3 linked regions of the Homo sapiens genome follow. The protein of the gene in region 1 interacts with the protein of each later gene in a pairwise test. Each region holds a gene or a part of one and is shown in the gene's direction. Other genes may lie near its edges.

Region 1 (9,225 bases):
TGTTGAGTACTCTTATTTTTTTTTCAGATTTTCTTATTTTTTAAATTTATATTGTACTAAGCTACATATAACACAATTTGCCATTTTAACTATTTTAAGTGTATAATTCCATGACATTAACTATATTCACAATGTTAGACAACCATCGCCTGATCATCAAAGTTTTTTGATCACCCTGAGTATGCTACATGCGATTGTTTTTTGTTTTAATGAGTTAAAATAAAAATCCTGAGCAGACAGGTGTGTGTGCTCATATTTTTATTTTACCTAAGCCGGAACCCTTGGTCTTACTTCTCGACTGTTTTACCGGCTGCTACTTTTGTTCATTATTACTTCTTTTTTTCACTCTAATCCTGTGATAGGTTAATGTTTATATTACTTGTCATCTCTTGCCTGCAGTGTTCTAAATTGCCTCCCCACTCTGTTCTCCATTGCCAGTCACCGTTCTCTCACCTCCCCACTCCATCTCTCCATGCTTGCTAATCTTCCTGCAACTGAGGCTCGATCCCATCACTCTTTAAGATTTTAAGTGGCCCCTCATTACTAACAATCCAAGCCACTATGAGCAGCATTGTTTCTTAGAATGGTATTTTTACTTTTATTTTTATTTTGAGACATGGTCTCACTCTGTTACCCAGGCTGGAGTGTAGTAGTACAATTACGGCTCACTGCAGTCTTGAAATCTTGGGCTCAAGAAATCCTCCTGTCTCAGACTCCCGAGTAGCTGGGACTACAGGCAAGTGCCACCACACTTGGGTAATTATTTATTATTATTATTATTATTTTTGTAGAGAAGGAGTCCCACTATGTTGCCCAGGCTGTCCTTGAACTCCTGGGCTCAAGCAATTCTCCCACCTCAGCCTCCCAAAGTGCTGGGATTTCAGCTGTGAGCCACAGCACCCAGCCCTGAGAATGGTTTTTTTAAACTTTCTTGTGTCTGTGCCTTGCACAGTGCCTGGCACATAATAGGTGCTAAAAAAAAATTGGGGTGAATGATTCTTGGTTTGGGATCCTGGAGTAAACATTCATAAAACCCATTTCATCCTTGTACAAGTACGGGAATACTAGTCGCTATAACAGATCAACTCCCTAACATGATAGTTTCCTTCTTGTCCATGGCACACTCCAATGCAAGTGTTCTTGTTGGACTCATTTTTTCTAAGCAATAGTTAGGAGCTCAGATTCTTTCAATCTTTGGTGCTATATCTTTAACATGGGGTTTCCAAGATTACCTTGGAAGACATTTCAATTTTGGCCAGCCAGAAAAGGAAAAGAACACAGAGGATCACCCCTGGAAGATTTTTGTTAAGTCCAACCAAAAACTGATGTACATTGTGTCTGCCCACATTTTAATAGCCAGAATTAAGCCACATGGCCACACTGAACTATGTGAGGGAGGCTGGGAAATGTAGTTCAGCTATGTGCCCAGAAAGAAGAGGAAGTGGATTTTGTTAAGTGCAACAGTCTATGCCAGAGTCCTTTGACACTAATTCAGACCTATTCAGATAAGTTCTTAGTGCAGTTCTTTCTCGATATGGACTGAATTGTGTCCTCCCCAAATTCATATATGTTGAGGCCTAACCCCAATGTGATGGTATTTGGAGTTACCTTGAGGGGCACGTATTTAGGATTAGATGAGGTCACTAGGGCAGAGCCCTTACAATGGGATGAATGCCCTTATAAGAAGAGAATGCTGGAGAACTGGCCAGCATTTCCCCATGCGCACGCATGCGTGCACACACACTCACACTCACACACAAAGAGGTCATCTGAGCACACAGCAAAGTGGTGGCCACCTACAAGAGAAGAGGCCTCAGCATGACACCTACTTTGTCTGCACCTTGATCTTGGACTTTAAGCCTCCAGAACTGTGAAAAATTTGTTTCTGTTATTTAAGCCACCCATTCTATGGTATTTTCTTTTCCTTAAAAAAATTTTTCCCCTAACCCACTGTGCCTTATAATATTTTTTATTTTTTTATTTTTTTTCATATGATATTTTGTTGTGGAAGCCTAAGCAGGCTAATATACTCCTCCCTGACTAAAATTCTGCAATGACAAGTAAGATGAATCCAAATCAACATTTTTTCCCTCTAGACTTCTCTCAGCTGGCGCCACCAGAGTTTATGCCATCTTGACTCATGGAATCTTCTCCGGTCCTGCTATTTCTCGCATCAACAACGCATGCTTTGAGGCAGTAGTAGTCACCAATACCATACCTCAGGAGGACAAGATGAAGCATTGCTCCAAAATACAGGTGAGGATGAGATTTGTGCAAAACAAGACTTTTCTAAGTGTTTAGGAGGTGGTTACTTACGTTGAATTAGGTCTCTGGATTCTGAAGATATCTTTCTTTGGTCTGAAGGATTTAGTCTTGTCATCAGAATTTGTGATCCAAAAGTTAACAATCACCTGTTTCTTTTCCTTTTTTTTTTTCTTTTCAAACTGCCAAGCCTTGGGAAAATCACCTGTTTAAAAGTTTAAATTGCTACACCTCAGAATCTCTGGAAGATGGAGCCTAAGATTCTACATTTTAACAGGTTCTCCCAGTGATTCTGATGCAAATTAAAGTTTTCAAGTCCATACTTTACAGTATGTGTTTGTCTGTTAACTATCGGCCCCTGTAGATATAATGTGAAACCTTTAAACTGATTGTACACTTCTACCAACTTTAGTGTTTCTCAGTGTGCTCTGGACCTAAGGTTCTTATTAAAATGTAGATTCCTTTGCTCCATCTAAGACCTATAAAACCAGAGGTCCTGGAACCAGTATTTTAAAGTAATTCCCCAAGTAATTGTTAGAAACTAAAGTTTGAGTGCTCTTGCACTAAAAGAACAAGGCCTTGCTTAATTAAAAATGTTCACATTAATCTATGAGCTTTTTGAAATTAATATGTGTAATTGGAGGATTATCATCTTTTTTTTTTTTTTTTTTGAGATAGGATCTTGCTCTGTTGCCCCAGCCGGAGTGCGCAATCAAAGCTCACTGCAGCCTCAACTTTGAAGGCTCAGGCAATCATCCTGTCTCAGCCTCCCAAGTGGCTGGCGTGCACCACCATGCCCAGCTAATTTTTTTGATATTATGTGTAGAGACGGGGTCTCCCTATGTTGCCCAGGCTGGTCTCAAACTCCTAGCCTCAAGCTATCCTCCTGTGTCAGCCTCCCAAAGTGCTGAGATTACAGGTGATGTCATTCTTAAGGATTTTTTTTCAACTTAGTCTTTTTTTTTTCCTTCATAAGGTTTTTTTGTTTGTTTGTTTTTTGTTTTTGAGATGGAGTTTTGCTCTTGTTGCCTAGGCTGGAGTGCAATGGCACGATCTCAGCTCACCGCAACCTCAGCCTCCCAGGTTCAAGTGAGTCTCCTGCCTCAGCCTCCCAAGTAGCTGGGATTACAGGCATGTGCCACCACGCCTGACTAATTTTTTATTTTTAGTAGAGATGGGGTTTCTCCATGTTGCTCAGGCTGGTCTTGAACTCCTGACCTCAGGTGATCCGTCCACCTCGGCCTCCCAAACTGCTGGGATTACAGGCATGAGCCACCACGCCCAGCCTATTCAGAAGGATTTTTAAATGCGAACCTACCACCATTTTTTTTTAGACAGGGTCTCACTCTGTTGCCTAAGCTGGAGTGCAGTGGCCTGATCTTGACTCACTGCAGCCTCAAACTCCCAGGCTCAAGCGATCCTCCTGCCTTAGCCTCACAAGTAGCTGGGACTACAGGCATACACCACAACCACGCCTGGCTAATTTTTGTTTTATTGTAGAGACAGAGTTTCACCATATTGCCCAGGCTGGACTCAAACTCCTGGGCTCAAGTGATCCTCCCACCTTGGCCTCCCAAAGTGCTGGGATTACAGGTGTGAGCCACAGTGCCCAGCCATTTTGATGAACCAAAGTCAGCGTTTTTTCTCAGTTAGCATTTTGACTCTTTCCTAAGTGGCTGTTTTGTTTTGTTTTGTTGTTTTGAGACAGAGTCTCGCTCTGTCACCCAGGCTGGAGTGCAGTGGCACGATCTTGGCTCACCGCAACCTCCACCTCCCAGGTTCAAGCAATTCTCATGCCTCAGCCTCCCGAGTAGCTGGGATTACAGGCGTGTGCCACACCATGCTTGGTTAATTTTTGTATTTTTAGTAGAGACGGGGTTTCATCATGTTGGCCAGCCTGGTCTCCAACTCCTGGCCTCAAGTGATCTGCCCACCTTGGCCTCCCAAAGTGCAGGGATTAACAGGTGTGAGCCACCGTGCCCAGCCGTAAGTGGCTATCTTAAAAATGTTATGAAGAATAGCTGAGTGCAGCCTCATGACAGGGAAACAGCACAGTGTTGCAGTTTTAAGAGGAAGGGCACTTGCCTGGCTGCTCATCAGTGTCTGCAAATTGGCCAGTCATCTCTGACCATATGATAGTAACCTGATTTCCTTTCTTGCCTTTCTAGGTGATTGACATCTCTATGATCCTTGCAGAAGCCATCAGGAGAACTCACAATGGAGAATCCGTTTCTTACCTATTCAGCCATGTCCCTTTATAATAGAGTAACTTCTGAGGCTTTTTGAGAATAAAATCCACCCCACCCTTGTTTCCCCTTGGTATTTGATGACAAATTCAGCAGAAGACCCGGCTTGCTCCAGTGTAGCTTTCTACATCCCACATCAGGTATATTAGAGCTTATCCGAACTGGGGAAAGACGGATTGAGATTAACTGCTGGGACCTCCTACCTGCATTATCTCATTCTGGCTTCCTTGATAATTCTGTGGGCCTTGCAGCTTTAACTATAGCTCAGCTGCTGCAAGATTTCAGACTTTTGAGGATGTTGTGTGAGGGTGTTTGACTGTGACTGGGGAAGCTCAGACTACTTTGTATGTGAATGCTTCAGGGTTTTCTTTGTTGAGAACAACTAGCAACAAAGGCAACCCATGTGTGACCAGTTCTCCCCAAGGTCTATGCTAAATTATAGCAAGAGCCCTGGGCAACCCCAAACCTAGTCCTGGTAGCTGAGCACCCTGTAAGGCAGGAGCAGGCAGCTCAGCTTGAGCAGACATTGGGTGGGGGGTGGGGGGTGGTTGAGGGGGGAGGCAGCACAGTGCAGCAAATGTTTCTTGGGAGGAAGAAGCCTGATCCATCACCATCTGCTTGACTATGTAGCTTGGATTCTCCTTTGTACCTATCCCTTTCGATTTGGCTTTACCTTCATCTATCTTGATCCTTTCCTGGCCAAATATCCTCTTGGGCCCAAATGAACATTGTACCATAGTCTTCTGGAAAGCAAACATGCTTCCTGCTATGTAATTGCTAACATTCATATTAGATGATGTGCTGTAGCTTGATCTTCCTTAGCCTACTGCCACTGAGGCAGTAGGTTTTAGGTGGTATCGTAGTGCCTTTTGATTAATTTAAGTATTTAATTTTCATCTTCCTTCTTTGGATCTATTTGGCCTCTCAAATGAACTGAGATTCCTGTTAAAAAAGATTGATGTTATTGTCTCTTGTAGAGGAAACTAATAAAGTGTGTGTACCTGTGTGATTTGGGGTCTGTATCATACATAATCTGTACTGATCTCTCTGCTAAAGGTTTGGTTTAGATAGATGTCTTGCTGTCCATTGATAGCTCTTATTTGTTTCCAAACTACGTTAGCTTCATTGTTAAACCAAGAGAAGACATTGGCAGCAGTTTTATTCAACTGTAAGACTAAGATGTCTGGAGTTTACTGAGAATGTGATAAGAGTGTAATTCTGTGCAGTATACCTAAATTATAGCATGTATAATGTCTGGTGGATCTCTGGTTCTTACTCCTGAAGATCCAAATTAGGTATTTTCTTATGGGAGGAGAATTTCTGTGATTTATTCATTTTGAACTAATTTTGCCAAATGTGATAATTTCCTTCCATTCATCAGTAATTGACATACGTTTGGCATTTACTTTCTTTGTTTTTTTTGATTTTTTGGTTTTTTTTTGAGATGGAGTTTCGCTCTTGTTGCCCAGGCTGGAGTGCAATGGTGCAATCTTGGCTCACTGCAACCTCCGCCTCCCGGGTTCAAGCAATTCTCCTGCTCAGCCTCCTGAGTAGCTAGAATTTATAGGCATGTGCCACCATGCCCAGCTAATTTTATATTTTTAGTAGAGACAGGGTTTCACCATGTTGGTCAGGCTGGTCTTGAACTCCTGACCTCAGGTGATCTGCCCGCCTCAGCCTCCCAAAGTGCTGGGATTACAGGTGTGAGCCACTGGTGCCCGGCTGGGCATTTACTTTCATCCCTGCTAAATAAGAACTATTTTGAGAAGGTAAATGTGCAAAATTTAAGGATGAATTATTATGCATTCCAAAATTTTAAGTTTCCTTCTTTCTTTCCTTTTTTTTCTCTTTCTTTCTTTCCCTTTAGCTCTCTCTTTCTTCATTTCTTTCTTTTCTTTCCTTCCTTCTCTTTCTCTCTCTGTCTGTCTGTCTGTCTTTCTTTCTGTCTTTCATCTTTCTCTTGCTCTGTCACCCAGGCTGGAGTGCAGTGGCTCGATCTTGGCTCACTGCAACCTCCACCTCCTGGATTCAAGTGATTCTCCTGCCTCAGCCTCGAGAGGGATTACAGGTTATCTGGGATTACAGGTGTGCACCATCACACCTAGCTAATTTTTGTATTTTTAGTAGAGACAGGGTTTTGCCATGTTGCTCAGTCTGGTCTCAAACTCCTGGCCTCAAGTGATCCGCCCACCTTGGCCTCACAGAGTGCTCGGATTACAGGCATGAGCCACCATGGCGGCCTTAAGTGAGTGAGTTTCTTGGCCCATCATCAAATAAGGGTGCTCTTTTACTTTGGGAAGCTACATGGCTACAGAGCTTCATGAAGAGTGCTTCCTTATTTGTGAAGCCCAGGTCTACTTTTGTTTATTTTGTTTTTGCTTTTGTTGGATATCGGGATATCTATTTTACAGCTAGCTCTTTGATAAAAGTGATTCAGGAGGGACTAAAGTATACTATGAAATGTGCGCCTCTAACCCTCTAGACCTCTTTAATCTCAGATTTTTGCTCTGGGAGAAGCTGATGTGAAGCACCAATGCCTTCACTTGCTCATCATGCTATTTCCTAAAGTATTGGATCAGTGGGTCAGGTCTCATTGTTACAGAATATTTTGACATTAAGATCTCTCTTGTGGGCCCCTTTGGGTAATTCATTTCCTAGGATGAGGTTTTGAGATTATTCAAAAAAGGCCCAGTCCCCAACTTTGATCCCTTTCAAAGCAGTTGTTTTTTGTTTTTGTTGTTTTTGTTTTTTGAGACAGAGCATCGCTCTGTTGCTCAGGCTGGAGTGCAGTGGCACGATCTCGGCTTACTGCAACCTCCGCCTCCCGGATTCATGTGATTTTCCTGCCTCAGCCTCCCAAGTAGCTGGCTAATTTTTGTATTTTTAGTAGAGATGGTGTTTTACCATGTTGTCCAGGCTGGTCTCGGACTCTCGACCTCAGGTGATCCACCCGCCTCAGCCTCCCAAAGTGCTGGGATTACAGGCATGAGCCACGGTGCCTAGCCTCAAAGCAGTTCTTGACTGTGGGGAATAGTAGCAGGAGCAGACCTGCCAGGGCATGAGGAGGAGGCAGCACCAAAGCTAAGTGGAGTTGCAGCGAGCACAGTTGACAAGAAACTCTAGTTGTGATAGCTACATGATTGCCCTTGAACACCTGTCTGAAGAATGGAGGTACAGACTAAAGCAGGGGTAGGAGGCTGGCTCTGTTTCCTGACCTAATGTAATGGCTGCTTTTCACACACAGAATGTGTTTACTCAACATCTCTATGAGTGGTGGTCCCCAGGGCAGTAATGCAAAGCTTCCTCCCCTCAGCCTCACTTCAAGTTTTTTGTAAGGTAGGTGCCTCCAATAACCAGATTCCCTTTAAGAGGCCTCTTTGTTCTCCCCCACAACTGAGAACTAGTAAGGATGAGATGGCAGGAGGGCATGGCAATAGGAAAATGATGCTTTTCTGGGATTTCAGGCTTTTTATGATTTTAATGCCTTCAGGTTGTTAAGGGCTACATGCGATTAGTATACAAGTTAACACTTTCAGCAGAAAACACTTGGTATCCAAATCTGGAAAGAAGACCAGGACTAGCAGCCCCAACTTAGATGAAAAAAATCTTTTATAGAGGCACCAACTTACAGAGTTGCTGAGCTTCTTCTCTGGTCCTGAGAATGCAGGGAGGTGAGGGGGTATGACATAGAATGGATGCTGCTGTTTGAAACAAGTGGCTTCTGTCTTGGCAGTGGTGGTTTAAAAAGCAAGAGTGCTACAGCCAGAGATTCCCCCTCTGCTTTGCCTCCACTGTGTTTGGAGACTTGTTTTTCTCTTGCAGATTTTTTTTTTTTTTTTTTTTTTTTTACCACTCTGAGACTCCTTGTTTAAGAATAAAGCAAATTGTGCTCCAAATTATGGCAGATAAAGCTTGATACTCTGTAAAATCTTGGCTCGAGCATTTCTTTTTGTGTTTATAACATTTACTTGACTCTTTACAACTCTTCAACTGCTATTTGTTGCTATAAAGTTTTAAAGTTTGGGTTTAAGACAGAGTCTCACTTTAGCCCAGGCTGGAGTGCAGTGGTGCAACCTCGGCTCGCTGCAACCTCCGCCTCCCAGGTTCAAGTGATTCTCGTGCCTCAGCCTTCTAAGAAGCTGGGATTACAGGTGCCCGCCGCCACACCTGGCTAATTTTTGTATTTTTAGTAGAGATGGGGATTCACCATGTTGGTCAGGCTCGTCTTGAACTCCTGACCTCAAGTGATCCACCTGCCTCAGCCTCCCAAAGTGCTGGGATTACAGGCGTGAGCCACCGTGCCCGTCCTATAAAGTTATTTTTTAAAATAAGTGTTCAGTTCTAGGAGCCAGGAAATAAATAAATAAAATAGTGTGTGGGTGCGGTGGCTCACACCTGTAATCCCAGCACTTTGGGAGGCTGAGGCAGGAATGAGCCTGAGACTCAGAAACCTGCCCATGTGGGTGTGGCTCCTCCTTCCCTAGTCCTCACTGCTCATGGGCTACTGTATGCCCACTCCTTGGTCTACTGTCCCCCCACCCCGTGCCCTAAGGAAAACCAGAGACTCTCCACTGACAGTCAGACTTCTCTCCCCATCCTTCCCCTTTCCTGAGCTTTTCTTCCCCAATATATTCATTCCTCCAATAGCTCAGCTGCCAACTATAAAAAATAAGGGGAAGCTCATTTTGAAGCAAAAATAGCTGAAACTGTACAGGGT
Region 2 (6,721 bases), on another chromosome or scaffold:
ATAGTTGTATATAGAAAATGCTAAAGAATCCATAAAAAGTAATAAATGAGTTCAACAGGTTGCAGGATACAAGATCAGTTTTATTTCTCTACTAACAGCAAACATTCTGAAAATGAGAATAAAGAAATCCTATATACAGTAGCATCAAGAATAAAACTCCAACACGTTTAAAGAAATTAAGATCCAGATAAATGGAAAGACATCCATGTTCATGGATTGGAAGACTGAATATTGGTAAGATGGCAATGCTGCCCAAATTAGTCTACATATTCAACAATTCCTATCAAAATCCTAGCTGTATTTTTTGCAGAAATTGACAAACTGGTAAAATTGGTAGGGAAACGCAGGGGACCCAGAATAGCCAAAAAACCTTGGAAAAGAACAAAGTTGGAAGACGTACCAATTTCAAAAAGTGCTACCAAGCTACAATAAGACAGTGTAGGCATATGGATAGACATATCGATCAGAGGAATGGAACTGAACATCCAGAAATAAACCCATACATTTCTGGTCAACTTGTTTTCAACAAGGATGCCAATACCATCAATAGAGAAGGAGTGGTCTTTTCAACAAACGGTGCTGGGACAACTAACTGGTAGCTACGTGCACAGCAAAAGGATCCCTACCTTCCTACCACATTACAAATTCTAACTCAAAATGGATCATAGACCTCAATATAAGAGTTTAAACTCTTAGAAGAAAACAGAAGTAAATCTTTGTGATGTTGGGCTTAGGAATGGTTTCTTAGACATAATACCAAAAGCACAAGCAACAAAGGCAAACAGTAGATAAATGGGACTTCATCAAAATTAACTTTAGCGCCTTAAAGGACACCATTAAGAAAGTGAAGTTAACCCTCAGAATGGGAGAAAAATTTTTGAAAAATCATGTATCTGATAAAAAAACAAACAAACATGCAGGTGCTCAGCTGTGGTTACCACCGAGCAGCACTGTCCAGTGAACTTGCTGTGATGATGGGATGCTTGGTATCCGCACTCCCAGTGTGATAGCCTTTAGCCTCATGGGGTTGTTGAGCAGTTGAAATAATAGCTAGTGTGAGGAACTGAACATAAAATTTTAGTTTTAGGATGGGTGTGGTGGCTCACGCCTATAATCTCAGCACTTTGGGAGGCCAATGAAGGCGGATCACTTGAGCCCAGGAGTTCAAGACCAGCTTGACCAAGATGGCAAAACCCTGTCTCTATTAAAAATACAAAAAAATTAGCTGGGCATGGTGGCACACACCTGTAATCCCAGCTACTAGGGAGGCTGAGGCAGGAGAATCGTACTTCCCCTTTATACTCTTCTGTATATTTGATTTTTTTTTTTTTAAGACAGAGTCCTGGCTCTGTCGCCCAGGCTGGAGTGCAGCGACATAGTCTCAGCTCACTGCAGCATCCGTGGAGGCTGAAACAGGAGAATCGCATGAATTTTTTAAAAAATCTAAACATGTAATTTTAAAACGGGCTTAAGAAGAATGATAACAGTTTTGGTCTTCTTTTTTATCAACCATGCTTTTATTTTACTTGAATCTCGTGCCAATTGCTTTGTAATATTAAAGTAGGATTTACACAAGTGGAATTTAGAAAAGATGATAATCTATCAAATCTGTCAATACCAATTAGAATGTAATAAAGAAATTAGGATAGTGGAGGTTTGAGCAAGTAAAGGCTCACCCAAATTCAAAGCCAATACTTGATGCTGAGAGGGGATATTTTCTGGAAGGTAATTTTTAAAAATTAAAGTCACAATTATAAATTGTATATTTCCTAATAAAAGAAATCTCAACTCATGGGACAATTTGAATTTAAAACACTATTGTTCCTCATTCAGTGATGAACAAGTCAAAACGTTTCAGAAAAGAAAGCCTTTAAAGAAGAATCCTGGCACAGAAAAGGTCCATTTAGACATTGCCTTCTTCCCCCATCTCTAATGCCTCTTTTCAAATCTCTGACTTGCACATGAAGTAACAGTGAGGTGTCCTGTGCAGCAGTCGCAATTTTTTGACTTGTCAAATTGAAGAAATTCAATTATGTAGCCAGAGCTTAGATCACTGACATGTATACTGGCATAAGCTTTTTTTTGTTTGTTTTTAATTTTATTAGAAGTGGGATCTCATTTTGTTGCCCATGCTGGTCTCAAACACCTGTCTTCAAGTGATCCTCCTGCCTCAGCAGCATCAGTTTAATATCTAGATAAAATCTGATGTATGTAATTTTACTTTTAAGGGTTTTTTTCCAAACAGACGTCCTGACAATGTTGTTTCCTATTCCTTGAACATTCACCTGACGCTTATATACTGTCATTACTTTTATCTGTCAACTGATGTCAGCTACTCAATTTACACATTACTTTTGTGCATTTCATCCTGTTTCTCAGTTTGACATTGTCATTCAAATTCAGAGTTTGACACTGAAACCCTGGGCATGGTGGCTCACACCTGTAATCCCAGCACTTCGGGAGACTGCGGTAAGCAGATCATTTGAACCCAGGAGTTTGAGACTAGCCTTGGCAACATGGTGAAACCCCATCTCTACCAAAAAAAAAAAAAAAAAAAAAGCAAAAACAAAAATTAACTGGGCATAGTTGCACACACCTGTAGTCCCAGCTACTCAGGAGGCTGAAGTGGGACGATCGCTTGAGCCCAGAAGGCAGAGGTTACGGTGAGTAGAGATTGTGCCACTGCACTCCAGCCTGGACGACAGGGCAAGACGCTGTCTCAAAAATAAAATATTAGTAAAGAAGAGTACAATCAGAATATGAAAATGTGTAAATGTGCATATTCTCTTTTTTTCTAATTTGGTAGCATTAAAAATACTTAAGCATCAAAGTTTGGCTTTATGAAGAAGGAGTCTGAGACACCTCAGGTTTCAGCCCTTACTAATAGCGTGGCTCAAAGAGCGTTAACTTGCCTGTGCTTCTGTTTCCTTATCTGTAAAATGGGGATGATGCTGTAACATCAAAGAGCTTATAATACTTTCCAGAGCTGGCAGTACTAAATAAGACCATTCCTCTAAAGTGCCAGCATTTTGAAAAGCATCAACCCATCAACCTTGTGCTTTAAATCTGGCATTCTTAAAGCTATACCTGTAGGCAGTATAGAGTGTTTTTTTTTATTTGTTTTTTTGTTGTTGTCTTTTGAGTCTCACTCTGTCTCCCAGGCTGTAGTGCAGTGGCACGTCTTGGTTCGCCGCAACCTCCGCCTCCCAGGTTCAAGCGATTCTCGTGCCTCAGCCCCCCGCATAGCTGGCATTACAGGCACACACCACCACGCCCAGCTAATTTTTGTAGTTTTAGTAGTATCTACTAAAATAAACAGGGTTTCACCATGTTGGCCAGGCTGGTCTCAAACTCCTGACCTCAAGTGATCTGCCTGCCTCGGCCTCCCAAAGTGCTGGGATTACAGGCGTGAGTCACCATGCCCGGCCGGCAGTGTATATCTTCTAAAGTTGCAATTTTTGTTCACTCCAGAATCACTTTTCAAAAAGCATGCAGATTTAATGCCACCAGTTTGTGTTATGTATCTATCCCGCAAAACAGCTCTAAAGGTGATTTACTAAAAGATTAACAGCATTTATCTCTGGTGGGATAATTTTTCTTTGCTTGTTTACCTGTGTCTTGCAGATTTTACACAGTGAACAATGACTGTATAATTTTAAAATACAGATATGCACAATTGTGTAATGTAAATATGCTCAGCTTCAATACATTTAAGAACACATTTTTAACTTTTCGTAAGGAGTCTTCAGTTTAAAAGTACAGTGTCATTACAGAGTGCTTATTCTGTTACAAAATTAGTAAAGCTGATTCTGCCTCTAAATCTGAAGTAATTCCCACTTTTTTTCATGCTTGAGTTTAGTTGATAAATAGCATTTTAGATACTAAAAATGATTGGATGAGTATTTCTACATTAATAAGTTGCTAATTAGGCACCAGGGTAGCAGATAGAATGCCTTTCTGTGTGCTAGGTTTAAACATTTTACACACAGTCTTATTTAAAACAGCCTTGCAGTTTATAGATGAACTGATTGTTAGGCTAACCAGAGGTGTTACTATACCCTCCAGGATAACCCAGCTAGTAAGGGCAGAGCCAGGATGATTCAGACCCAGACCAGAGCCGGGTGTTTTGTCCACAGTACTGCTGCTGCTTATACCGTAACGGGAAAAGTACACAACAGTGTCTTAATATTTCATTCTTCCATGAAAAACACTTTTAAAATATTGAAACATTATAGGAGCAGAAGTACATCTCTAAATATACTTTTAGGTCACATTGAAAACATTTCCAAAGGATTTGACCTGAAGTTAATGTTGCTACATTATGCTCAATACAGCAGGCTGTTCTGCTAGGGAAATTGTTAATATTTTAAAAATATTTTCCTAAGCTTTAGCTTTACCACTTCCAAGTCTGTACAGACTGGTTATTTCTACATTACAAAGACAGTGACTCCCTCAAAGGCTGACAGTTTTTATAGTCTGTGTTTATAACATACACATCTATTCTTGCCAGATGTGGGTTCCTACATTGCCATCTAACCTCAGCATCCTTTATGTTATGCTCCAACTTGGGTAAGCGGCTTTGTTTCCTTCCCAATCTCCTGGTCAGACAGTTGACCTCACATCTTTGTCTAGTGGTTTTCAAACGTCAGAGTAGCCCCTTGTTGGAGCGGCAGCCTTGGGGTTCCCCACTGTTTTCCACATTGCCTTTCCAAGTAAGCTTTGGTCTGCGTTAAACCCCGCTGTTTGCTTTGATATTCTCCCCCCACACAGCCGTACCCCACACCAGCTGGGCGCCTTTGGGAGACCGCAGCCCTTAGAAAAGGGGAAGAAAAGCCTCCTGACTGCACAGTGAGGGCTGGAGGCGTCTGGCCTGGAGGGAGTCCAGGCCACTGGACTCCACACTGTCAGCCAGTGTGAGCTGCTGGTGACAGGGAAAGGCCATGTGAGCAGGTCCTGACCTGCAGTTCGGGCCCCTGGAGCAAACAGCACCAAACTTGGCCCCCAGATCAGCTTTGTCATTCAAGATGTGGCTTGCTAGCAGGTGTTATTAACAAGGCGAAGCACCATGTGGTATCTTCCCATTGGAATCAGTTGTTATTGCTAACTAGGTATTAAGTGTCTGAAAACCTGATTTTGTACTTTGGCATCACCTGGCCCAGTTATAGCTTTGTGGGGGATACAGTTTCAAGGTGTGCAGTGGCACTCTCACCTGCAAGGGAGAAGTGTGCTTGTTGGGGGAAGGTCAGATAGGGGGTACACAGGGCTGGCATGCTAAGACACGCTCTTCCTGGAAGTATACGTGCAGAAAGCCACATCATAGTCCAAGGCTTTATGAGCACAAAAGGAACACGGGGTGGGGCGGGGAGGGGATCGTCTAGATGAACCTGATGGTTAATGACAGCAGGCTAAGATGAGCCAAATGTCCCTCTCATTGGCCAGCCTTGCCAGTGAGGCTGAATGCTTCCAAGCTAAGAGTCTCTCTGTCCTGGACAGCACTTACAGGACCCTGCCAATGTCTGCTGCCCGAGGTGCTTTCTGACAGTTTGCTGTAGCTACAATAATCCATTTACTCAGCTCGCAGACTTGCCTTGGAGCCATTCTAGCTGTGTAAGCTGACTTCACACCCAGGCCTGACCCACGATGTGACTCGCAAAATTACCTTTTCCGGCATTTTCGTGTCCTGGCCCCTTGTTAGCAGCACGTGACCAACACTGGCCACCAAGGCCCAAGCTAGACTGGCCAACAGAGAGTGGAGGGCTGAGGGCTGAGGAGACCACAACCATTATTAGATAGGATTGATTCTGCCTGTAGACTGAAAAGAACATCACCAAATGATGTCGAGAAGGAGGATAAGGAAGACCATTCCATGATGCTCTGCTCGGCCGAGCTACCCTGGAGGCAGGCCCCTGCTGAGGAGAGGCAGGAGAAGGGATGTCTTCAGGTGAGCCAATGGGAGCAGCTGGCTTTCAAAATGCCACTTAAAAGGGAGGCTGGCTATTGGCCTACACTGCACAGAAGCTTCCTGACCAGATGCCACAGGGCCTGGGGTCACCAGTAAGCCTAGAGCTGAGACTCCCTGAGCCCATCTCCAAATACATAATCCGAGTGGGGCTGTGAGAGGACAGTGGGGCAGTGCGGGACCTACTCCTGGAGGACTCACCCGCTCCCCAAAGGGTATGTGATCCATGCCCCAGGCCAGTGCTGCTGGCTGAATGTGAGGAAGCTTGGACTCCATTCCTCAGGAGCCCAGGCACTTCAGCAGGAAGGCTGGGGACCTCTGGGGCCAGCACTAGGGGCAGAGCAACAGACGAGACTAGAGGGCAGAGGGCACGTGGGAGCTAAGCCTGGGGAGATGGACACCAATGCTCAGGTGAGCGGCCCTAGCTGGCAGCACTTTGTGTGTTTCGGCACGCATCGTTGCTGGGAGGAGTAAGCACTGGCCGTGCAACTCCACCAGGGGAGGATGATGGAGGGGGTGCCTGGTCTCTCCTGGCCTCTGTGCACGTGGCTCTTCCCTTGCTGATTGGAGTCAATGCCTTTCACTGTGATAAACCATAACCATGAGTGTTATGGCTTCTCTGAGTTCTGAGTTGTTCTCGTGAATTAATGAACCTGATCTTCCAGTGGAATGGGGTGGGCGGGAACCAGATTGGCTCGTGATGGCCTGTGATGTCCTAGAATAGCCAGGTCACAGGTGGGACTTCTCATTCAGGGAAGGTGA
Region 3 (10,208 bases), on another chromosome or scaffold:
TTAACAGTCATCCCTTTTTTTCATAAATGCCCATTAAATGTCCGTTATATGCCTAAATCTGTGCTAGACAGACAAAGGTAATTGAGAGAAATTAGGAGTACTGTTTGGCACATGGTTGGTACTTTTTTTTTTTTTTTTTTTTTTTGAGACAGAGACTCCCTCTGTAGCCCAGACTGGAGTGCAATGGCGCGGTCTTAGCTCACTGCAACCTCCGCCTCCCAGGTTCAAACAATTGTCCTGTCTCAGCCTCCTGAGTGGCTGGGACTACAGGCGCCTGCCAGCACGCCTGGCTAATTTTTGTATTTTTAGTAGAGAAGGGGTTTCACTATGTTGGCCAGGCTGATGTCGAACTCCTGACTTCATGATCTGCCCACCTCGGCCTCCCAAAGTGCTGGGATTATAGGCGTGAGCCACCGCGCCAGGCCGGTACTTGATATATTAGTCATTTTGGATTTTTTTTTGGTGGGGGGACAATACTTAATGTGGAAACTGAGTCTTTAGTGTTTGGTAAGAGAGAATGTTGATTATTTTTTTTTTTTAGACAGGGTTTCACTGTCACCCAGGTTGGAGTGCAGTGGTGTGAGCTCGGCTCACTGCAACCCCTGCTTTCTGTGCTCAAGCGATTTTCCCACTTCAGCCTCCTGAGTACAGTGGTGCCACCATACCAGGCTAATTTTTAGGGTTTTTTTTTTTTTTTTGGTAGTTTATGAGATGGGGTCTTGCTATGTTGCCCAGGCTGGTCTTGAACTCCTGGACTCAAGCAATTTGTTGGACTCAGGCTCCCAAAATTTTGGGATTACAAGAGTGAGCCACCGCACCTGGCCATGGTGAATGTTTAGATGTCAACATTTTTTTTTTTTGAGACAGAGTTTTGCTCTTGTTTCCCAAGCTGGAGTGCAATGGCGTGATCTTGGCTCACTGCAACCTCTGCCTCCTGGGTTCAAGCGATTCTTCTGCCTCAGCCTCCCGAGTAGCTGGGATTACAGGCACCCACTACCACGCCTGGCTAATTTTTAGTATTTTTAGTAGAAACGGGGTTTCACTATGTTGGCCAGGCTGGTCTCAAACTCTTGACCTAAGGTGATCTGCCTGCCTCGGCCTCCCAAAGTGCTTGAATTACAGGTGTGAGCCACCACGCCCAGCCTAGATGTCAATATTTTGTCAAGCATTGTCAGGTTCATTTTATGGAATGATGCTTGATTGGAAATGGACATTTATGTGCTACAACAGTAGTATGAAGTATGATTTGGGTTCTCATGGATGGCACATAAGCTCAATATGTTGTAAATATTTTTTACGAAATCCCTTAACATGATCTCAGTGCCTTCTATTGCAGTATATGTACCTGAAACATTTTGTACACAAATTGTGATTAAGTAATTTTCCACCGGTAGGTTATCATAGTAGGCACTTGGCTGTGGCAGAAATTTGTAATCAATCAGGCTCTTAAAGTCTCTCCTTTTTTGGGCCAAATTTGTGGTAAGCCAAGACTAGATAGATCTTTTCCCGGTGGTTTCATAATCACTTTAATGTATTGCATTACTGTTCTTAGCTGAAATTTCTAAGGATGTTTTTCTGTCAGGAAATTTAATAAGGAATATTTAATATACATAGATGTTGATTTTGCAAATAGTTTTATACTAGATTTATGATTGGTAAGAGGAAATTAGAGTAGAATAGTTGTTTAGCCTCTTTTGTAACACTTGTGCAACTTTAGTTTCAACTTCTTGCTGAGGTAATTCTAGCTAATAGATTTCTTTTTATTAGCTTATTATAAAAGTAATACTTGCTCATGTGAAAATTGTAATTGACATAAAATTTGAAAATATTGCCTTCCTTCCTCATTATTCTACTGTGTATATTCTTCCTAAATTAAAGGCTTTTAATTGAAATCTTAGAAAAATATAAAAATGTGATTGTGTTGATGTTGAAATGAAAAGGGGCCTGCTTACTAGAAGGGGAAGGAAATTACATTTTTAATGGTTTTTTTTTTTTGAGACAGAGTTTCGCTCTTATTGCCCAGGCTGGAGTGCAATGGCACGATCTCAGCTCACCACAACCTCTGCTTCCCAGGTTCAAGCAATTCTCTGGCCTCAGCCTCCCGAGTAGCTGGGATTACAGGCAGGCGCCACCACACCCAGCTAATTTTGTATTTTTAGTAGAGACAAGGTTTCTCCATGTTGGTCAGCTGGTCTTGAATTCCCAACCTCAGGTGATCTGCCTGCCTCAGCCTCCCAAAGTGCTGGGATTACAGGCATGATCCACCACACCTGGCCAATAGTTTTTTTTGTTTTGTTTTGTTTTGTTTTTAAGAAATGAAGCTTAATATAATTTGTTAAGAATATTTTGTTTTCCTTTTGTATTAAAATCTATCATAATAGGACTGTGGTTGTATGATTTCATAGTTGATGCATCATTTATAGAATATTTCAGATTGTAATGGTAGATTTCTTATGTCATGGCTTATATTATAACCACTCTTAAGTAACTTAGAACAGTGACTAAAACTTGAGCATGCTTCAAAATCTCCTGAATCACCTGGAGAGCTTTTCAAAATACAGATTGCCGGAGCTTGAGAATTTGTATTTCTAACAGATTTGTAAGTGGTGCCACTGCTGGTCCAGGGACCACATTTTGAGAACCAGTGACATGGAGAATTGAAAATTATAAGGTTGAATTCTGCCAGCATATCAGCTAAATCAGTTTTATGCTTTAGAATAATGTTTTAGAAAAAGTCTATAGCAGTCTTGCCCTATAGAGTGCTTGGTGATGTTCTCTATATTGTCCAGTGTGGTAGCTACTAGCTACATGTGGCATTTAACATTTGAAATGTGGACAACTGAAGAACCGAAATTCAATTTTTTAAAAAATTAACTTAATGAAATAACCACATGTATCCAGTAGTTACCATATTGGACAGCACAGGTCTCTAGAAATGAAAAAATACAATTATTTTATGATTATGGACTGGTAATGTGCTCGTGAAACAAATTAGCTTAATTTGAAACCGTGAGCCTGCTTAATCCAGGGAATGTGACTATTTAAATAATGTTTATATTAGAGTTTACTTCCTACTCGTATTGAGATAATTTCAAGCCATGGTAAAATTTAGGAAGATAGCCAGAGTAGGTGAGGTGATGTTCTGGAGCAGGGGTATTTAAACCAGAGGGTTTGTGGGATGTTAACTTAATGGATAGGCTTCAAATGCTATAGAGTAGTCCCTCCCTTATCCCATGGTTTTGCTTTCTGAAGTTTCAGTTACCCCAAGTCAACTGAGGTCTGAAAATATTAAATGGGAAATTCCTGAAACAAGCAATTCATAAGTTTTAAATTGTGTGCTGTTTTGAGTAGCGTGAGGAACTCTCTGGACGTCCCACTTGATCCTGCCCGTGACATGAATCATCCCTTTGTTCAGCATATCTATGCTGTCTACACCTGCCCGTTTGTCACTTAGTAGCCTATTTGGTTAGCAGTGACTGTCATAGTATCACAGGGCTTGTGTCCAAATAATCCTTATTTTACTTAATAATGGACCCAAAGTGCAAGAATAATGGTGCTGGCATGTAATGATACTTGTTCTATTTTATTCATTATTTTTGTTAATTTCTTAATTGTGCCTAATTTATAAACTAAACTTTATTATAGGTATGTTACGTATAGGAAGAAAACAACATACAGATGGTCCCTGACTTAACAGTGGTTTGACTTACAAGTTTTTTACTTTACTGGATGTAAACCTGTCATAATAAACCTGTTATAAGTTAAGGAAGGCCGAGTGCGGTGGCTCACACCTGTAATCTCAGAACTTTGGGAGGCTGAGTCAGGAGGATCGCTTCAGTCCAGGAGTTTGAGACCAGCCTAGGCAACATAGTGAAAATAACATTTGTCATTTTCTCTACAAAAAATAAACAAAATTAGCTGGGCATTATGGTGCATGCCTGTAGTCTCAGCTACATGAGCTACGTGGGAGGCTGAGATGGGAGGATCACTTGAGCCCGAGAGGTTGAGGGTGCAGTAAGCCAAGATCATGCCACTGCACTCGAGCCTGGGTGATGGAGCAATACTTTGTCTCAAAAAAAAAAAAATGTTGAGTATCTGTATGGGCTGTATGGGCTTTGGTATTGTATGCGGTTTCAGGCATCTATTAAGGGTCTTGGACCGTATTTCCTGTGGGTAAAGGGAAACTACTGTACTGACCACTGAAAGCAATTGTTCTTTTATCTATTTTTATTTGTAAAAATAATTCAGTCCATTCCCCTAATGATCAATTGTTTCTACTTATGTTTCTTTTGCATTCTTGATTTTGTCATTTTACATATATAATGTTTATGGAATTTGTCATTTAGTCAGCTGATATTTTAGTGCTTTCTATATGACAGGCACTGGGGATACAGCAGTGAACAAAACAAACATCCACTCCCTCTTGTAGCTTCTAATGGGAGCAGCCAAGTATAGTATGTCACATGATAAGTGACAAAGTAGGGAGGGAGGACAGAGTGTGTGGGGCAGTAGGTTTATAGTTGTAGAGAAGGCCTCAGTAAGGTATCATTAGACCAAAGATTTGCTGGAGGAGTAGACACATATCACGCAGGTAGACTTGGGATAAGCATTCCAGGCAGAAGAAATAGCGAATTCCAGATTTGGATTTAGGATCTGGGAGAAAAGATTGGAGGCAAGGATCCAACACCAAGGTTTTAGGCCTTGGCAACTGGAATGATTTGCCATTTTCTAAATTGGAAATGGTGAGTGAGTGAGCAGCCACGTTTATTCTGTGAGGAGGGGACTGTGGGAGATCAGATTATTTTGAGGAATGCTTTTCTTATAAGACATTTAAGTCGAGATTTTTAGTAGGCATTTGAATATGCAAGAATTATGATTTGTAGTTTTTATATCCTAAAAGCATTTACTTTTGTAAATAATGAAATTATTTTCTATCTACAGCACCAGTTCTTAGCCACTAGTAGGTGTTGCTAGTAGAAAAGAGCATTTATTCTTTCCCTTTTTTTTTTTTTGAGACAGAGCCTCTTTCTGTCGCCCAAGCTGGAGTGCCGTGGCGTGATCTTAGCTCACTGCAACCTCTGTTTCCTGGGTTCAAGCGACTCCTCCATCTCAGCCTCCCGAGTAACTGGGACTACAGATGCACACCACCATGACTGGCTTTTTTTTTTTTTTTTTTTTTTTTTTTTTTTTGGTAGAGACGGGGTTTTGTCATGTTGCCCAGGCAGGTCTCAAACCCCTGGGCTCAAGTGATCCACCCGCCTCAGTCTCCAATATTGCTGGGATTATAGGCATGAGCCCCTGCGCCCAGCCAGCATTTACTCTTAATATTCCACTACTTTTGTATGCACATGGGAAAAATAGAACCAGCTGGTAAAATCCTAAGAAATTGGAGCCTCAAAGTCCAGAGGCCTTCTCATTTTGACTTATTTCAAACCAGTCTTATGGATAGGTACTAGTAAGTAAACTTGAAATCCTATGTATATATTTAAATTTAAATTATATAAAAATAAATAAAATTGGCCGGGCGTGGTGGGTCATGCCTGTAATCCTAGCACTTTGGGAGGCCGAGGTGGGTGGATCACCTGAGGTCAGGGGTACCAGACCAGCCTGGCCAACAATGCGAAAACCCGTCTCTACTAAAAATACAAAAATTAGCTGGGCATGGTGACAGGAGCCTATAATCCCAGCTACTCGGAGGCTGAAGCAGGAGAATCGCTTGAACCCGGGGAGTGGAGTTTGCAGTGACCTGAGATCGCTCCATTGTACCCCAGCCTGGGTGAAAAAGCGAAACTGCCTCAAAATAAATACATAAATAAATAAAATTAAAAATTTATATCTTTAGTCATATTAGCCACATTTCAAGAGCTCAGTAGCCACATGGAGCTAGTGCCCACCCTGTTGGACAGTGCAGATAGAGAATAGATCTGCCATCACTGAAGGTTCTTTTGGATTGCAGTAGATCTTGATGCTTGGCTGTATTACATTCTGGTTAATGAGATCTTAGGCTGTAGGAGGGGAAAGATTCGATTGTGCTGTTACAAAAATATTTTTATTAATATTATATTTAGCTTTGGTTAAATGCTTTCAGGGTGGCAGTGTAAAACTAAAGATTATTGGATAAGAGTGATGAAGATAACAAGAGGATCAGCATCTTACATGGTGCTTTGAAGGGATGGAGGTGGTTTGGTTTAGCAAAACCTTTAGGGAGCAGTGGTGTTTAAATTTGAAGAAATGTCATGTAGTAGAGGGTCAAACCAGGACAAATGGGAGGCAGATTTTGGCTCATTATAAGTAAGTATTCACAAAGCTATCCTAACAATCAAAAAGTTGGCTTTGAAAAAGTGTTTTCTGTCACCAAATATGTTGAAGCAAAGAATGGTTGACCATTTCACTGTAAGGGATATTGTAGAAGGGATTTTGTCATCAGATTTGAATGTACACTAGATCTCTAAGGACCCTTCCAAATCCAAGATTCTGTGATTTTTTTCCCCAGTGGTCCCTTGTACCTAGATTTTATGATTTAAAAAATATTTTATTTTATTTTTTGAGACAGAGTCTCACTCTGTTGCCTAAGCTGGAATGCAGTGGTGTGATCTTGGCTCACTGCAACCTCTGCCTCTCCGGTTTAAGTGATTCTCGTGTCTTAGCCTCCCGAGTAGCTGGGACTTACAGGCACGTGCCACCATACCCAGCTAATTTTTGTACTTTTAGTAGAGATGGGGTTTCACCATGTTGGCCAGGATGGCCTCAAACTCCTGACCTCAAGTGATCCACCCGACTTGGCCTCCCAAAGTGCTAGGATTACAGGAGTGAGCCACTGCGCCCAACCAATTTTTTTTTTCTTTCTTTCTTTCTTTTTTTTTTTTTTTTTTCTGAGACAGAGTCTTGCTCTGTCGTCCAGGCTGGAGTGCAGTGGCGCAACCTCAGCTCACTGCAACCTCCGCCTCCCCGGTTCAAGCAATTCTCCTGCCTCAGCCTCCTGAGTAGCTAGGATTACAGGCATATGCTACCACGCCTGGCTAATTTTTGTATTTTTTAGTAGAGGCGAGGTTTCACCATGTTGGCCAGGCTGGTCTCAAACTCCTGACTTTGTGATCTGCCCACCTCGGCCTCCCAAAGTGCTGGGATTACAAGCATTAGCCACTGCACCTGGCCCAATTTTTTTCTTTTTTTTAATAGTGTTATGGATTGCATGAAATTACTTGTGGAGTGTATGTGTTTTAGTAGCCAGCTACAGAAGTTTAACATTAACTTCTAATGTTACCTGCATTTTAGGTTTTGTATAACATTGTAGTTTGTTAGAGATGTAAAGGAATCCAAGGAACATATCCTTTGAGAAATAACATCTAAATACTATGTATCAATTAAAAGTTATTAAGGTATAGTGAAAGATCCATTTTATTTTTTTTCCCCATTGATTGGCAGAGGAAGGTACATATTTTAAAATAATCTCTGGTACTTAGAGAATATGCTTTACCGTAACTTGCCATCACATAAAATTCTTCCTTAATTATATTGTGAATTTTTTTTTTCTTTTTTGAGACGGAGTTTTGCTCTTGTTGCCCAGGCTAGAGTGCAATGGCGCGATCTCGGCTCACGACAACCTCCACCTTGTGGGTTCAAGTGATTCTCCTACCTCAGCCTCCCGAATAGCTGGGATTACAGGCACATGCCACCATGCCCAGCTAGTTTTTGTATTTTTAGTAGAGACAGGGTTTCACCAAGTTGGCCAGGATGGTCTCAATCTCTTGACCTCGTGATCTGCCCGGCTCGGCCTCCCAAAGTGCTGGGATTACAGGCGTGAGCCACCGCGCCCGGCCATGTTGTGAATTTAAAACTAATTCCTTTCACATTTTTTCAGTACAGAAAGTACCTGGGAGTGTCTCAGCCTCTACTTAGCATCTATCATGCCTAATCATTCTGAATGGGAAGAAAAAGGTGAAAGTTTTGTTAATTTCTTATTGTTTTTCCAGACATGTTGATAGCAGAGAAGAAATGTGGGGTAGATGGTTAACAGCTATCCAAGTCTTATAAACTAATATAATAAGGTAATATTTCTTTTATTTAGATGTAACCTTGTAACAAGCTTAGAAAGTTTCTATATGACTTGAAATCTATCTGCAGCTTATTTTCTTTCTTTCTTTCTTTCTTTTTTTTGAGATGGAGTTTTGTTCTTGTTGCCCGGGCTGGAGTGCAATGGCGGGATCTCAGCTCACTGCAACCTCCGCCTCCCTTGTTCAAGTGATTCTCCTGCTTCAGCCTCCCAAGTAGCAGAGATTACGGGCACCTGCCACCACATCTGGCTAATTTTTGTATTTTTAGTAGAGACGGGGTTTCACCATATTGGCCAGGCTGGTCTCAAACTCCTGACCTCAGGTGATCCACCCACCTCGGCCTCCCAAAGTGCTGGGATTACAGGCGTGAGCCACTGCGCCCGGCCTATTTTCTTACCTGTATTTTCAGTGCTTATACCAACACAGGCCCTCTTTATTTTTTTATTTCTGCCAGAGTTTTCAGCATTTTAGATCATATATCTTAGAATAATCACTGATTCTTTCAGACTGTCATCAGATTAACTCAGCAGTTCTTACAAATGCCTTTCATAGCCATCCCTTTCACCATATTTTCATTGATACCATCCCAGCCCAGGTTCGTAGTTGAAACTTACGAGTAACATACCTGGTGTCTGATTGGTTGTCATACTTTTCATTTTCCCTCCTTTCAGATCCAATCCATTCTACACATTATACTGATTTTTTCCTAGTGTACTGATTTCTGTTATGTCACTTTGCTGCTTAGGCTTCTTAATGCTTACTGTATCAGGTGTAAACACCTTTTGCTTACCTTTCCAGGCCTTTTTAGAGTCTTATATAGCTTACTCCCATGCTCCAACTCCAATCCTGTTCTGCAGGCTGGTCTTATTTGCCTCTTCATATGCCTTGTGCATGAGGGTACATTGTTCAGTTGCTATAAAAAAAGACCAAACCACAATACCTTAAACAAAATAAGTTTCTCTCTCCCATAGCAGTCCAAACAGTTCAAGACTAATATGGTGGTTCCATGGTGCTGAAGACCTAGACTCCTCTCTTGTTGCTCTGCTCTTTCCCTCATCTACAAGGTTAAAGATAGTTTACCTTCACCATTTCCCTCTTCCAGCCAATGGGGAGGTAAGCAGGAGAAAAAGGAAAACACCCATTCCTTTTAAGAGCATGATCTGGGCCAGGTGTAGTGGCTCATGCCTGTAATCCCAGCACTTTGGGAGGTCGAGGTGGGCGGATCACGAGGTCAGGAGATCGAGACCATCTTGGCTAACACTGTGAAACCCTGTCTCTACTAAAAATACAAAAAATAGCTGGGCATGGTGGTGCATGCCTATAGTCCCAGCTACTTGGGAGGCTGAGGCAGGACAATCGCTTGAACCAGGGAGTCGGAGGTTGCAGTGAGCCAAGATCGTACCACTGCACTCCAGCCTGGCACAGAGCAAGACTCCGTCTCAAAAAACAAACAAAACAAAAAGAGCATGTTCTGGAAGTTGTATCCATAATTTCTACGTATGTTCCATTGACAAGAACTTAATTGTAAGAGTTCACATAATCACAGGGAGACTAATTGGGAATGCACCCAAATAATTCTATCACTATATACTGGATTATAGAGGATGCAGGTAAAAAAGTGTGTGTGTGTGTGTGTGTGTGTGTGTATACACACATATATAAAACTGATATAACTATATGAAGGAAGGGGATAGGTTTGTGTTGTGTAAATACTCATCCATCTTGGCAGGAGGTCAGCAGATGATGTCTAAAGTAGATAAAACATGAAATACACACACACACACACATAAAATTTTATCACTATGAAAGTAAAGCAGTCCTTGCTGTATCTTGCTAATTGTAAGGGTGATGTGTGTGTGTGTGTGTGTGTGTACATATATATATACACATACATACTATCTATGATAGGAGAATTGAGAATATTAATTTTTAATCAAGTAATATATGTACATATTTAAAAGATACAGAATAAGATGAGCTTATAATGAAAAACAACATTCTTCGCCATTCCCAGACTCATTGCTTAGAGTGAACCACTTTTAACTGTTTTTGGTTCTTGTGATTATCTTCATATCTCTAAATCATATGCTTAAACTGATGTTTCATGTTTTATCTACTTTAGACATCATCTGCTGACCTCCTGCCAAGATGGAT

What was found. The genes of interacting proteins can lie anywhere in the genome.
Region 2: the proteins of PRPS1 (region 1) and MALT1 interact in binary tests that used the Homo sapiens proteins (3 or more experiments, as listed by UniProt).
Region 3: the proteins of PRPS1 (region 1) and PCMT1 interact in binary tests that used the Homo sapiens proteins (3 or more experiments, as listed by UniProt).

The regions. Positions count from the first base shown.
Region 1 is NC_000023.11:107,645,510-107,654,734, forward strand, and holds the end of PRPS1 (ribose-phosphate pyrophosphokinase 1), read left to right. Parts: intron 1-2,096; coding exon 2,097-2,256; intron 2,257-4,430; coding exon 4,431-4,523; 3' UTR 4,524-5,517; downstream 5,518-9,225. UniProt on the Homo sapiens protein: Catalyzes the synthesis of phosphoribosylpyrophosphate (PRPP) that is essential for nucleotide synthesis.
Region 2 is NC_000018.10:58,750,079-58,756,799, forward strand, and holds the end of MALT1 (mucosa-associated lymphoid tissue lymphoma translocation protein 1), read left to right. Parts: 3' UTR 1-4,399; downstream 4,400-6,721. UniProt on the Homo sapiens protein: Protease that enhances BCL10-induced activation: acts via formation of CBM complexes that channel adaptive and innate immune signaling downstream of CARD domain-containing proteins (CARD9, CARD11 and CARD14) to activate NF-kappa-B and MAP kinase p38 pathways which stimulate expression of genes encoding pro-inflammatory cytokines and chemokines.
Region 3 is NC_000006.12:149,751,355-149,761,562, forward strand, and holds part of PCMT1 (protein-L-isoaspartate(D-aspartate) O-methyltransferase), read left to right. Parts: intron 1-10,208. UniProt on the Homo sapiens protein: Initiates the repair of damaged proteins by catalyzing methyl esterification of L-isoaspartyl and D-aspartyl residues produced by spontaneous isomerization and racemization of L-aspartyl and L-asparaginyl residues in aging peptides and proteins.